Homo sapiens: one gene and its partners. The protein of the gene in region 1 purifies or fractionates together with the protein of each later gene. This does not show direct contact. Each region holds a gene or a part of one and is shown in the gene's direction. Other genes may lie near its edges.

Evidence for each region. The genes of interacting proteins can lie anywhere in the genome.
Region 2: the proteins of PABPC4 (region 1) and MKRN1 purify together in Homo sapiens (affinity purification with mass spectrometry; 3 studies listed by BioGRID and IntAct, with this or other methods). This does not show direct contact.
Region 3: the proteins of PABPC4 (region 1) and DDX6 purify together in Homo sapiens (affinity purification with mass spectrometry; 3 studies listed by BioGRID and IntAct, with this or other methods). This does not show direct contact.
Region 4: the proteins of PABPC4 (region 1) and LUC7L2 purify together in Homo sapiens (affinity purification with mass spectrometry; 2 studies listed by BioGRID, with this or other methods). This does not show direct contact.

The regions. Positions count from the first base shown.
Region 1 is NC_000001.11:39,566,791-39,570,290, reverse strand, and holds part of PABPC4 (polyadenylate-binding protein 4), read left to right. Parts: intron 1-288; coding exon 289-428; intron 429-601; coding exon 602-696; intron 697-1,351; coding exon 1,352-1,489; intron 1,490-2,444; coding exon 2,445-2,540; intron 2,541-2,780; exon of another isoform or gene 2,781-2,917; intron 2,918-3,500.
Region 2 is NC_000007.14:140,459,006-140,462,505, reverse strand, and holds part of MKRN1 (E3 ubiquitin-protein ligase makorin-1), read left to right. Parts: intron 1-2,569; coding exon 2,570-2,799; intron 2,800-3,272; coding exon 3,273-3,499; intron 3,500-3,500. UniProt on the Homo sapiens protein: E3 ubiquitin ligase catalyzing the covalent attachment of ubiquitin moieties onto substrate proteins. These substrates include FILIP1, p53/TP53, CDKN1A and TERT.
Region 3 is NC_000011.10:118,753,165-118,756,664, reverse strand, and holds part of DDX6 (probable ATP-dependent RNA helicase DDX6), read left to right. Parts: intron 1-341; coding exon 342-405; intron 406-1,161; coding exon 1,162-1,263; intron 1,264-1,777; coding exon 1,778-1,953; 3' UTR 1,954-1,960; intron 1,961-3,500.
Region 4 is NC_000007.14:139,404,894-139,408,393, forward strand, and holds part of LUC7L2 (putative RNA-binding protein Luc7-like 2), read left to right. Parts: intron 1-750; coding exon 751-894; intron 895-2,280; coding exon 2,281-2,457; intron 2,458-3,500. Other genes in the region: FMC1-LUC7L2 readthrough protein, read left to right, coding at 751-894, 2,281-2,457. UniProt on the Homo sapiens protein: May bind to RNA via its Arg/Ser-rich domain.

The DNA.
Region 1 (3,500 bases):
AAATGAACATTTTAAAAACATGGCCATCAGGTTTCTTCATGAAGGCAGTGTGATGTGGTAGGAATAGCCCTGGTCTAAGCCAGGAGCCCTGGGGCTGGTCCTCACAGGATAGTCCTGCCTTTTTCTCTTTCTGCTGGGGACTTGGGGTATCTCTGAGCCTCCTTGGTGGTGGATGGGGATCTCGTGTTTTAACCTCTCCTGTCAGTCTTTAACCTGTATTCCTTTGGGTCCCTGGACATCATGTTTTATTCCTCTGGGTAATTACTGTTCTTCATGGTTTCATTTTAGATTTGTGGGCAGATTCAAGTCTCGCAAAGAGCGGGAAGCTGAGCTTGGAGCCAAAGCCAAGGAATTCACCAATGTTTATATCAAAAACTTTGGGGAAGAGGTGGATGATGAGAGTCTGAAAGAGCTATTCAGTCAGTTTGGTAAGTTGGGGTTCCTTGTCTCCTTTCACAGTCTACCAGACCCATCTGTTTTTTCTTAAGAGATGAGGGCACTGCTCCAGAGATTTGCTTCAAGTGAGTTTCCAGAGGGAAGCCTTCTGTTCCTGAGCTGTGCTCAAGATGGTGTTACTAATAGTTCTGTCCTTTGGTAATAGGTAAGACCCTAAGTGTCAAGGTGATGAGAGATCCCAATGGGAAATCCAAAGGCTTTGGCTTTGTGAGTTACGAAAAACACGAGGATGCCAATAAGGTGAGTATACCACAAAGATTGGGAAAAGCTTTTAAGAGGTTGCCCCAGAGTATGGGTAGGGTCTTGCTAGCACCTACCTAGAGCTGGGACGGTCTGAGTATCTGGTAGTAGATGTACCATTACTATACTCTGGGATCATCTTCCTGGGTTCCGCATGTTAACTTCATGTAGGTGTTTACAAAGCACTTGGCACATACCTGTCACCTCAGCTATCAGTTGTTGAAAGAATAGGACAGACGTTTGTTATGCTGCAAAGGTGAGAGAACTAAAGCCCAGTGAGTGCTGATTTGATAACAGCACGGCAGCTACTTGTGGGCAAAGCATTGTGCCAGACCCTCAATATTTATCACTTAAATACCCACAAAAGCACCTGCAGAATTTACTGGCAGCCGGAATATTATATCGCCCTAGGCTCATGTCAGCACACTTGTGTTTATACACCTGTACTATTTCTATATTATCTGGATCAATAACCCATTTAAATATTAACCTCACTTTACAGATGAGGAAGTTTGGATTTGTGTGACAGACTTCAGAGGTGGAGTGAATTTAGTTTTTAGTCCTATAGTAGAAAGAATATTTTTTGGGACTTAGACCTCCAGAATAAGACCCCATCGCTGCAACTTTATTTTAAAGACATATTTTTCCTCTCTAGGCTGTGGAAGAGATGAATGGAAAAGAAATAAGTGGTAAAATCATATTTGTAGGCCGTGCACAAAAGAAAGTAGAACGGCAGGCAGAGTTAAAACGGAAATTTGAACAGTTGAAACAGGAGAGAATTAGTCGATATCAGGTAAGGTGGTCTTGGCCCAGCCTAGCAATGGGATTTGCTGTGAAATATTTGCAGAACACCCCTATGTTTAGCGGGCTTTCTTTTTGAGGACTTGGAGTGTGTTCTTCTTCCCATTTTACCTAAAAAGATGAGGTTTAAAAGGATATATACCTACTACATATGACTGATTATTATAGAACCAGAAACAAGAGATGGGTTTATTCATCAAGAAGCTCTCTATTTTGGAAGCCTCAGCCTGTTGCTTTTAGCCATGTAGGTTCCTTTTACTTAAATGAGACTCCTTTGTTTGGCATGGCTTCAAGAAGACCCCTGCTGGGGTGGGTGAGTGGTCACCAGAACAGCTGTGGGGAGAGGTGACAAAAGGTGAGTGCACTGATGATCCTGTCAGTTTCAGGGCAGTAGTTTCACAACTTTGGACTTGCATCAGATTCATCAGCAGAGCTTGTTAAAACAGATAGCTGGGCTCCAGCCCCAGAGTTTTTCTTATTCATTGGGTTTGGGGTCTGGCCTAAGAATTTCATTTCTTTCTTTTTTTTTTTTTTTTCTTGAGACAGTCTCGCTCTGTCGCCCAGGTTGGAGTGCAGTGGCACAATCTCGGCTCACTGCAAACTCCGCCTCCCGGGTTCGCACCATTCTCCTGCCTTAGCCTCCTGAGTAGCTGGGACTACAGGCACCCGCCACCATGCCTGGCTAATTTTTTGTATTTTTAGTAGAGACGGGGTTTCACTGTGTTAGCCAGGATGGTCTCGATCTCCTGACCTTGTGATTCGCCCGCCTCGGCCTCCCAAAGTGCTGGGATTACAGGCGTGAGCCACCGCGTCCGGCCGAGAATTTCATTTCTAACAAGTTCCCAAAGATGCTGGTGCTCCTGGTCTGGGGCCACCCTTGGGGAACCACTTTCTTAGGGAATATTTGTGATATAGAAGTGTAGTTAACAGTGATCTTTTTCCTTCAGGGGGTGAATCTCTACATTAAGAACTTGGATGACACTATTGATGATGAGAAATTAAGGAAAGAATTTTCTCCTTTTGGATCAATTACCAGTGCTAAGGTATTATACTGCGATCTGGGGATTGAAAGCAGTGGTATTCCATTATAGGCTTATTGGCATTTGTCCCATTGAAGGAATAGCATTTAAATTATGTTCATTTCTGAAAGTAGCTACTACGTTTTTCTAGCAAAATTTCTGGATGCATTCTGGAGAATGACATTTCATTAGGTTAACATTACACTGTTTCCCAAGCACTGGAGTCTGGAGAGGAATTTGACCCAGCCCCTCCTTGCCAACTCAGAGCACCTGAATCTTTCCCATTCCTTGCTGCCTCGTGCCGGTGTGGGGACAGATGGTGCTACAGAATGAGCAGAGGAAATCCAGACAGGTTGTTTTCCATTTGTCTTGGGGCCTGTCTCTACAGCTCTGCCACATTTTCTCCTTGAGAATGAAGGTATTTTGAAGATTTTGGAGGTGGGCTTGGGAACTTCTACCCTGGTCTTAAAAAGAGAGGAAAGGGGAGTGGAAGGTTTTTCTATGTTTCGTAGTGTGCATCATTTGCTTGATTTTCTTTGATAATCATATCAACTAAGTTAGCAGGGTAAGTAGGAACCTCATTTTAAAGATAAGGAATTTTAGTCCTTGAACAAGAGAATGCTGACTACATGGGGATGGTGTACTGCTTGTCCTTGGCACTTTGGGAGCAGGATGGAAACTGGTGCCATCTGAACATTTTGAGTTATGGCCGGATGCAGACGCCGGTCTTGCTAAACAGGTGTACCAGATGCCACAAAATCCTTTAGTTGATGAGAAGGGAAGCCACGTGGGCTGGTAAGGGCTTAGTGGCCCTGCCCTGGCTCTTAGTGGACTTTGCTCCCAACCTGGGAATGTGGAAAGCAATGTTATCAGTTGTAGTAGGGAGTTGGCCAGAGGCCAACTGTGGGTTTGCCCAGTTCTTACCCTTTCGTTTTTGCTATGACCCCCCCCTTGACTGGCCCTCATCAGTGTAAGGAGTGATCT
Region 2 (3,500 bases), on another chromosome or scaffold:
GAGTAGAGCCTTTAGTTAGATTTTACTTTATTTTTGCGTATAAACATAGGCACCTATAACACAGATGACCCAAAGTTAGTAATGTTTCATTATAAGAACCACTTGATAACAAACTATAAATTATGTAGCACAGTTAAATTTACTATATGCATAATTAATACATAGCATCTGAATAAAACTCGGTGTGCCGAGCACGGTGGCTCATGCCTATCACTTTGGGAGGCTAAGGCAGGAGGCTTGCTTGAGCCCAGGAGTTGGAGACCAGCCTGGACAACATAGGGAAACCTTGTCTCTACAAAAAATAAAAAAAGTTAGACCAGCATTGTGGCACACACCTGTCGTCCCAGCTACTCAGGAGGCTAAGGCAGACGGATTGCTTGAGCCCAGGAGGTCGAGGCTGCAGTGAGCTAAGGTCACGCTACTGCACTCCAGCCTAGGAGATAGAGTGAGTCTCTGAAAATCAGTCAATTTCTTAGTGTAAAATGCTAAAAGAATTGTGATAATTGTCTTTTCTTTTCTTTCGAGATGGAGTTTTGCTCTTGTTGCCCAGGCTGGAGTGCAATGGCACCATCTAGGCTCACTGCAACCTCCGCCTCCCAGGTTCAAGTGATTCTCCTGCCTCTGCCTCCCAAGTAGCTGGGATTACAAGCATGCGCCACCATGCCTGGCTAATTTTGTATTTTTAGTAGAGACGGGGTTTCTCCATGGTGGTCAGGCTGGTCTCGAACTCCCAACCTCAGGTGATCCACCCGCCTCACCCTCCCAAAGTGCTGGGATTACAGGCCTGAGCCACCACGTCCAGCAGGAACTGTGAGAATTTTCTCAGGCAGAAAGATGCTTGCTATGCTTTGCTTTTTTTTTATTATTTTTTGAAACAGAGTCTCACTCTGTTGCCCAGGCTGGAATGCAGTGGCCTGATCTTGGCTCACTGCACCCTCCACCTCCCATGTTTAAACAACTGTTATGCCTCAGCCTCTCCTGAGTAGCTGGTATTACAGGTGTGCGCCACCATGCCCGGATAATTTTTTATTTTTAGTAGAGACCAGGTTTCGCCAGGCTGGTCTTACACTCCTGGCCTTAAGTGATCTGGCCTCCTTGGACTTCCAAAGTGTTGGGATGACAGGTGTGAGCCACCGCACCAGGCCAGAAAGAAGGTTCTTGAAGGAAATAGATGTATTTTCCCCACGTATTTGGAGATGGTGGTGGTTTAATGTTTACAGATGAAAAGGAGAGAATGCATAGGGGCAAAATTTGGAAGGGGAAATGGTGAATGGATGGATTTTCTTAGAAAAAGAATGTACATATTGTGTATTGTATAAATATTGTCTCTACCTTTTAATAGTGACAGCATTTTATTTGATGTGTTGGTAAAATGTTCCACATGTCTGCTTATTGACCTTGTGTCAGCCTTGCTTTGAAATCAGTCAGTTTTGCCTGCAGGGTTTCTGGCAGAGTTACCATGGGAACTATAGACTGTCAACTATCTGAAACTCCTAATTAGAGTGGAATTTGAAGTAATAAGTGGTATATAGCCAGGGGTATGGGCCTACAGGCCAAATCTGGCCAAAGGCCGTTTTCATAAATCAAGTTTGATCGGAACAGTTACACATTCCTTTAAATAGTGCCTACACCTGCTTTTGCACTGCAGTTTCAGAGTTGAATACTTGTAGTTGTGATGTTGATTGTATGACCTACAAAGCCTAAAATATTTGTGTATTTGATGCTTTAAACTTTGGTGACCCCCAGTCTATTGCCTTCCTACTCAAAAGTATGGTCTCTGGACCAGCAGTCTTGGCATCACACATGGTATAACTAAATATGCAGAATCATAGGCTTCTCTCTGCACTCACAAATACAGGCACATTGATGCTCAAAGAGAATCCAAGGAATGTATTAGGAATATATGGCCGTACGTGGTGGCTCACACCTGTAACCCCAGCACTTTGGGAGGCTGAGGTGGGTGGATCATCTGAGGTCAGGAGTTCGAGATCAGCCTGGCCAAACGGCATCTCCACTAAAGATACAAAACTTAGCCAGCCTTGGTGGCTGGCGCCTGTAATCCCAGCTACTTGGGAGGCTGAGGCAGGAGAATCCCATGAACCCAGGAGGCAGAGTTTGCAGTGAGCTGAGATCACGCCACTGCACTCCAGCCTGGATGACAGAGCAAGACTCCATCTCAAAAAAAAAAAAAAAAAGAAAAGAAAAAGGTATATATGAAGTTAGGCAGTGAGTGCTTACTTTTTTTTTTTTTTTTTTTTTGAGACGGAGTCTCACTCTGTCGCCCAGGCTGGAGTACAGTGGCATGATCTCGGCTCACCACAACCTCTGTCTCCTGGGTTCAAGTGATTCTCCTACCTCAGCCTCCCGAGTAGTTGGGATTACAGGTGCGCCACCATGCCCAGCTAATTTTTGCGTTTTTGGTAGTGACGGGTTTTCACCACATTGGCCAGGCTGGTCTCGAACTCCCAACCTCTCTGGTGATCCACCCACCTCAGCTTCCCAAACTGTTGGGATTACAGGCTTGAGCCACCACGACTGGCCGACTGCTTACTTTTGAATTTTTTCTTAGATATGAACATAGCAAACCATTGAAACAGGAAGAAGCAACTGCTACAGAGCTAACTACAAAGTCATCCCTTGCTGCTTCCTCAAGTCTCTCATCGATAGTTGGACCACTTGTTGAAATGAATACAGGCGAAGCTGAGTCAAGAAATTCAAACTTTGCAACTGTAGGAGCAGGTTCAGAGGACTGGGTGAATGCTATTGAGTTTGTTCCTGGGCAACCCTACTGTGGCCGTAGTAAGTATTCTGAAGAAGAAAATAAGAGTTAGAGGGCTGGATAGCAGTTCATCCATTTGCTTAGTTTTGACAACTTTCCCCTTTCTGCTTCTATTCCTTTTTTAGTTTAATCTTAGTACAGTACTTTAATTTGGATTACCTAAGATTTACAGATAGAGTGAAGGAAATTTTTAATCCCAGTGAAATGAATTCAGAATGTTTTGAAAAACTGAATCCTTTCGAGTACTTTTTGAAATTAAATTTCAGTTACCCAAGACATAGATAAAGAAGCAATTTTTTTTTTTTACAAGTCTAATCTTGGAAATAACAGCGGTAGAAAAAATTCCTTTCTTTCAAGTGAAGAAGTTAGTTCAGTAGACTGTTTTGGTATTTCATTGCAGTTTTATTTTCATTTTTTGCGGTTAGATTCTCAGTTCTCTTATAGTTCATGCCTTATCTATTTGGACCTTTACCACCCTCTTACACATTTTCAGCTGCGCCTTCCTGCACTGAAGCACCCCTGCAGGGCTCAGTGACCAAGGAAGAATCAGAGAAAGAGCAAACCGCCGTGGAGACAAAGAAGCAGCTGTGCCCCTATGCTGCAGTGGGAGAGTGCCGATACGGGGAGAACTGTGTGTATCTCCACGGAGATTCTTGTGACATGTGTGGGCTGCAGGTCCTGCATCCAATGGATGCTGCCCAGAGATCGCAGCATATCAAAG
Region 3 (3,500 bases), on another chromosome or scaffold:
AATATGGCCCCTCAGCTGGCTGATTTTTCTTTTTTTCTTTACTGTTTGCCTTTAGAAAAAGATACAATATCTAAATTTCAGAATTTGATTTAGCAAAAAATAATTTAAAACTGTAACAAAAATGACTTTTTTGTTAACTACATTATGAAATTTCGTAAGTAAACAGTTTCTGTAGACGAAGATATCAAGAACTTAACTCATTTGGTTTTGAAAGCAGCTTAATATCATGGATCACTTATAAACAGATTTTGGGTAGAACTGATCGTCTGGGAGAAATAATTATGGGAAATTTGGGGCTGTATATGAGTGTTAATCAAATGGAATACATTGCTTTCTCCTAGGAACATCGAAATCGTGTATTTCATGATTTCCGAAATGGCTTATGCCGCAATCTTGTTTGCACTGGTAAGTATTTTTGTATTTCCTTTACCCAGTGTTTTTCTCCCAAGTTGTTTTTTGCTTTCTCTGTTCATATTACATAGTGCAACCTGTGACATAGTCCGACACACCCTACCACTACTTCTAGGATTTCTGAAGTTGAAAATGAACTCTTGTCAGCTCCTGATACTGGGTTCCATATCTGAAACTTTAGAAGACTTACTCTGGCACTCATACCTCATCTCTGTCTTTTTTTTGGGGGGGGGGGGGAGGGGGATGGAATCTTTGTCACCCAGGCTGGAGTGCAGTGGTGCGATCTTGGCTCTCTGAAACCTCCACCTCCTGGGTTCAAGTGATTCTCCTGCCTCAGCCTCCCAAGTAGCTGGGATTGTGGGCGCCTGCTACCGCTTAGCCCGGCTAATTTTTGTATTTTTGGTAGAGACAGGGATTTCACCATGTTGGCCAGGCTGGTCTCGAACTCCTGACCTCAGGTGATCTTCCTGCTTTGGTCTCCCAAAGTGCTGGGATTACAGGCTTGAGTGCACCCAGCCTCTTTTAGACACATTTTTTAAAACTTGCTTACAATTACTGGAAAAAAGTAACTTGGGAGCAGAAAGTTATTTATGATAATGTGATTATGAAAGGTAATGCCAGTAATGTGCAAATGCATTTGAATAACTGAATTAAATTAATAAACTTAGGTTATGCTAGAAATATGTGTTAGTATTGTACTGAGAGACATTTCTAAATTGAAAAAATGAAAATTATCTTTTTTTTTTTAAGATCTGTTTACCCGAGGTATTGATATACAAGCTGTGAATGTGGTAATAAACTTTGATTTCCCAAAGCTGGCAGAGACCTATCTCCATCGTATTGGAAGATCAGGTGAGGAAAAAAGAGGTGATATTCTTGGTAGAAGTTCTTTTTTGAGGCGTGTAATGACTAAATTTTGTTCTTTTGTGAAATAGAGTACAGTAGCTATGAGAACAGTGAATTAACAGTAATTCAGTTGTTTGGTATTTAAGACTAATTTCTAATTCTTCTGTAGCATTTATTAAGAAAAGTTAAAATAACTGCTTAATTTGAGATGAAATTAACACATGAGAACTTCACTCATTAGGTGGTATGTTCTGTGACTGTTGTTTAATGTGTATTTTATGGCAGTTTTGACTGCCATTTTGTCATTTGAGAAAGGTGAAATGAAGTACTATTTTGGGCTGCGAAACCTGAAGTTGTAGGGAAACCTGTGTTTGAAGACCATTAAGAAGTTGTTTTGCATACTAAGAATGGCACTGAACATCATTATCAATCCTGTGTGGTTTTGCCACTGCTTGACTTGCACAATTCACATTGATTTTCATATTTTATTCATTAAAATTTTTAAACGCATGTTTTTTAGGTCGCTTTGGTCATCTTGGCTTAGCCATCAACTTGATCACATATGATGATCGCTTCAACCTGAAAAGTATTGAGGAGCAGCTGGGAACAGAAATTAAACCTATTCCGAGCAACATTGATAAGAGCCTGTATGTGGCAGAATACCACAGCGAGCCTGTAGAAGATGAGAAACCTTAACAAGCATGTACGTCCCTGACAGAACAGCTAAGAGGAACCTTTAAATGAGGGAAATCAAAATCTTCTTTCCTGGGGGAAATTTGATGTCACACCATATATAATAGCAATAAAGGGTAAAATACCCACTAGCATAAATGACAGTAAATAATATCTCTTGTGGGAGGTTGTAGTCTCATTCGAGAATCTGTAAATGTTGTTCTTGAATGCAGCTTCCCGGGTAATGTGGTAGATTAGCAGTACTTAAATTCAGAGTCCTAAAATAATGAAAGCAAAAAAGAATGTTTTTCAGCAATTTGTTTTTCTTTTTGAGACAAGGTCTCACTGTCATCCAGGCTGGAGTGCAGTGGTGCAATCATAGCTCACTGCAGCCTGGTTCTCCTGGGCTCCTGAGTAGCTGGAACTGTAGGCACATGCCACCACGCCTGCCTAATGTTTTAAATTTTTGGTAGAAACAAGGTCTTGCTTTGTTGCCTAGGCTGGTCCAGAACTCCTGAACTCCAGCAGTCCTCCTGCCTTGGCTTCCCAAAGTGTTAGGATTATAGGCGCAAGCCACTGTGCCACTGTGCCTGGCCTTTTTTGACAGTTTTGTAGGGGGGATTTTTGTTGTTTTTGTTTTTTGAGAGTCTTGCTCTGTTGCCCAGGCTGGAGTACAGTGGCACAATCACGGCCCACTGCAACCTCTGCCTCCCAGGTTCAAGCGATTCTGGTGCACCTCAGCCTCCCAAGTAGCTGGAATTACAGGCATGCTCCACCATGCCCAGCTAATTTTTGTATTTTTTAGTAGAGTTGGAGTTTCACCATGTTGGCCAGGTTGGTCTTGAACTCCTGACCTCAAGTGATCTACCCGCCTCAGCCTCCTAAAGGGAGGCTGGGATTACAGGTGTGAGCCACCACACTGCCAGCAGTTTTGAATATGAAAGTATTTACATTTCTGAAAATGTAAAATGTTTTTAGCATTTACTCTTAATTTCTAGTAAGTACATTAATCACTCTGATAAAACTATCCATAATACCTTATTAGCAAATGTTTAATCAGATTATGAGGATGGCCATCTTTTTAAAATACCCACTCTGGGCCGGGTGCGGTGGCTCACACCTGTAATCCCAGTACTTTGGGAGGCCGAGGTGGGCGGATCACGAGGTCAAGAGATCGAGACCATCCTGGCCAACATGGTGAAACCCTGTCTCTACTAAAAATACAAAAATTAGCCGGGCATGGTGACACGCACCTGTAGTCCCAGCTACTCGGGAGGCTGAGGCAGGCGAATCACTTGAACCTGGGAGGTGGAGGTTACAGTGAGCTGAGACCGCACCACTGCACTCCAGCCTGGGTGACAAAGCTAGACTCCATCTCAAAAAAAAAAAAAAAAAAAAAGCCACTTGGGCTGGCTCAGTGGCTCACACCTGTAATCCCAGCACTTTGGGAGGCCGAGGTGGGTGGATTACCTGAGGTCAGGACTTCAAGACCAGCCTGGCCAACCTGGTGAGACCCCGTGTCCACTAAAGATACAGAAAATTAGCCAGGCATGGTGGCGGGCGCCTGTAAT
Region 4 (3,500 bases), on another chromosome or scaffold:
TAATTGGTTTAGCAATAAGTCAGATCTGATGGATTCCTGAACTTGATCCACCAATTCATTTCTTTAACTCATATTTGAGCCTAGGCTATTTGCTGAGCACTAGAGATACAAAGATGGGAAATACAGATAGCTGTCCTTAAAGTAGTATGATATTTATGAAAGGAACTGTCAAAAAAGATACAAAGGTGACACAAAGGAGAGAGTATGGCCATCTTTGCTGATGTGTTTAAGTGGGGCTGGGATGTGGTGACTGTTCAGGAATGTTTTACAGAAATGGCCCTTGAGTTGTATCTTGTTGGAACGAGTGAATATTCAGTAGGCAGGCGAGAGGTAAGGGATCCCATCCCAGAAAGAAGAGTATATGCAAAGTAACAGAGGTAGAAAACAACAGGGTAAGTTTGGGGAAACTATAAATTATGTTGTGAGGTGGGGGAGTAGCAAGAGATGGTTTAGAAAAGTACAAAGGGCCAGATCATGGAAGAAATCGTATTTTACACTAGGAATACACCACCTCGCCAGAGGATAGAAAGTTATATTGGGCCCAGTAGTAGCCCTGACTTCATTGAGGTAAGGCAGGCAGGCTCAGAACATCCTGATGTCTCAGTAGTTCATTTGGGATACGCTCAGAAAGCATTCTTTAACCACATACTGCCTTAGATAACAAGTTTTTTCTCAGCAGTTCTGAAATACTTTGAAATTTAAAATTCATTCTCTTGTTTATTCATGATCTTCTTTTTTATTTCTTTTTAGGCAGAACGTGTTCATGAGTTAAATGAAGAAATTGGTAAATTGTTAGCCAAGGTGGAACAACTAGGAGCTGAAGGGAATGTGGAGGAATCCCAGAAAGTAATGGATGAAGTAGAGAAAGCACGGGCAAAGAAAAGAGAAGCAGAGGTAAATTCTTAATAGTAGTAGACGAATTCTGCTTAATTTGGTAAGACTACAAATAAAAAGTAGTAGATGAAACTTCAGTATCTATACTTCTCTAAGAACATGTATTTGAATGGAAATTATTGAACAGTTGTTAAAGAGAAGTTGAACTAAAAGACAAAAACAAAACAAAACTCGGAAAAAGCTGGTTGTGGTGGTGCGTGCCTTTGGTCCCAGCTATTTTGCAGGCTAAGGTGGATCGCTTGAGTCCAGTTCAAGTCCAGCCTTCTTCTTTTTGTTTTTTTGAGATGGAGTTTTGCTCTTCTTGCTCAGGCAGGAGTGCAATGGCATGATCTCAGCTCACCGCAACCTCTGCCTCCCGGGTTCAAGCGATTCTCCTGCCTCAGCCTCCCAAGTAGCTGGGATTACAGGCCCATGCCACCACACCTGGCTAATATTTATATTTTTAGTAGAGACAGGGTTTCTCCATGTTGGTCAGGCTGGTCTTGAACACCCAACCTCAGGTGATCCACCTGCCTCGGCCTCCCAAAGTGCTAGGATTACAGGCATGAACCACTGCACCAGGGCCTTTTTTTTTTTTTTTTTTAAGACAGAGTCTTACTCTCTCTCCAAGGCTGGAGTGTAGTGGTGCGATCTCAGCTCACTGAAACCTCTGCTTCCTGGGTTCAGGCGATTCTCTTGCCTCAGCCTGCTGAGTAGCTGGGACTACAGGTGTGCACCACCATGCCCGGCTAATTTTTTGTATTTTTAGTAGAGATAGGCTTTCACCATGTTGGCCAGGCTGGTCTTGAACTCCTGACCTGGGGTGATCTGTCCACCTCAGCCTCCCAAAGTGCTGGGATTACAGGCGTGAGCCACCCGGCCTGGCCTGTTTTTTTGTTGTTGTTGTTTTTTAAAATACTTTTGGTAAATTTGTCTTTCAGAAAATCTCTCTAAGTTGTATTTATTGATATAAAGTTGTTCATAGTGTTCTCTTTTAATATCTGTAGAATGTTTGCAATTCGTGTCTTTTCTTAATTAATCTAGCTGGTCAGTTTTATTTTGTTTTTCAAAGAACCAGTCTTCTGATTTTATTGTTTTTTTCTTGTTTTCTATTTCATTGATTTCTGTTCATGTTTATTATTTCCTTATACTCCAGTGGAGAGAGGCGCTAAGGATAGAGGATGGGGATAAAGGGAACCTATAATTTTCATAACAAAATAGCCATGCTTTTGTGGTTTTTTTTTTTTTTTTTTTTTGAGCTGGAGTCTCGCCCCAGTGAGCCACCGTGCCCAGCCACTTTTGTGTATTTTTTAGAAAACACTTTTGGTATAAGCATAGTATATTTTATTTAATTGTATGACTTTTAGTGAGATTTATATGGTCATTGTTTTTCTCACTTTTGTTTAGGAAGTTTATCGGAATTCTATGCCAGCTTCCAGTTTTCAGCAGCAGAAACTTCGAGTCTGTGAAGTCTGCTCTGCCTATTTAGGACTTCATGATAATGACAGACGACTGGCTGATCATTTTGGGGGTAAACTGCACCTGGGATTTATTGAAATAAGAGAGAAGCTTGAAGAATTAAAGGTACATTGGTAAAATATTCCTCACTTTATCCTCTTGTTCTTTTGATCTGTATCAGTTGCCTTTTTGTACAATATTCTTGACTATGATTCAGTAATATAGTATCTAATGATTAATACTAAACAGTGTAGGATTATAGATGGAAATTCAAGTTGGTTTAATGGATGCTGCCTGAGAAACAGACTTAATATTATCCTGTTATTTTGGGAGTTACCATTTTATATTAGATATGACACCGAGTTAGGGATCTTTCAAACTAGTTACTAAAAGAGTCCCATAAAACTTCATTGTTATTGTTCTTTTCAATAAGGTCAATAAGAATGTAATAATATAATATTTATAAGAAGTTTGAGAAAATGAACCCAATATTAATTTGAAATATTTTGCAATTCTTTATTAAATAGCAAGCTTGCAGAATCTCTAGTTTTATTTTATGCTCCTGCTTCCACTTCAGAAAGGACTTATGAAAAAATTTATATTTTTTTAAAAGGACAATCACTATTACTTAAATAATATAGGCTTTTGTGGGGAAGACAACACAGTTTTTACTCTTGTTGTTTAGAGGGGATAAACACAAAAAAGCATGGTGATATTTCTGAAGTGGTAAAGATGAGTGTTGGTGGATATAATCTATTTACCTTTTAATATGCTGATAGCTTTTTAAGAATTGTGGCACTGTAGTGTTTTTTCATGAATTGAGGTCTGGCTGACAGATAGGAAACATGGGATAGTCATTTTCTTTGTAACTGTTATTGTCAACTGGAATTAACTCAAGGTCCATAGCATTTAAAATAATATAGAATCAGAAAATGCCTAGGGACATCTCCATATTCTCAGGTAACAGTGGGCTCTTTTCAGTATTCTGAGTAGCTAGGGTGATCTCAAGTAATTTTTTAAAAATTTCGAAAAGAGTCACTATAGCAAATAGTTACTAGGCTCCAAGTTAAAACTCCAGTGGTTCCTACTTGGGAGTCTTTGCAGATAGACCTAGCAACAGAACTCAAGCATTTTACTCATATCTTTAAAAAGCAGCAGCATCAGGATGG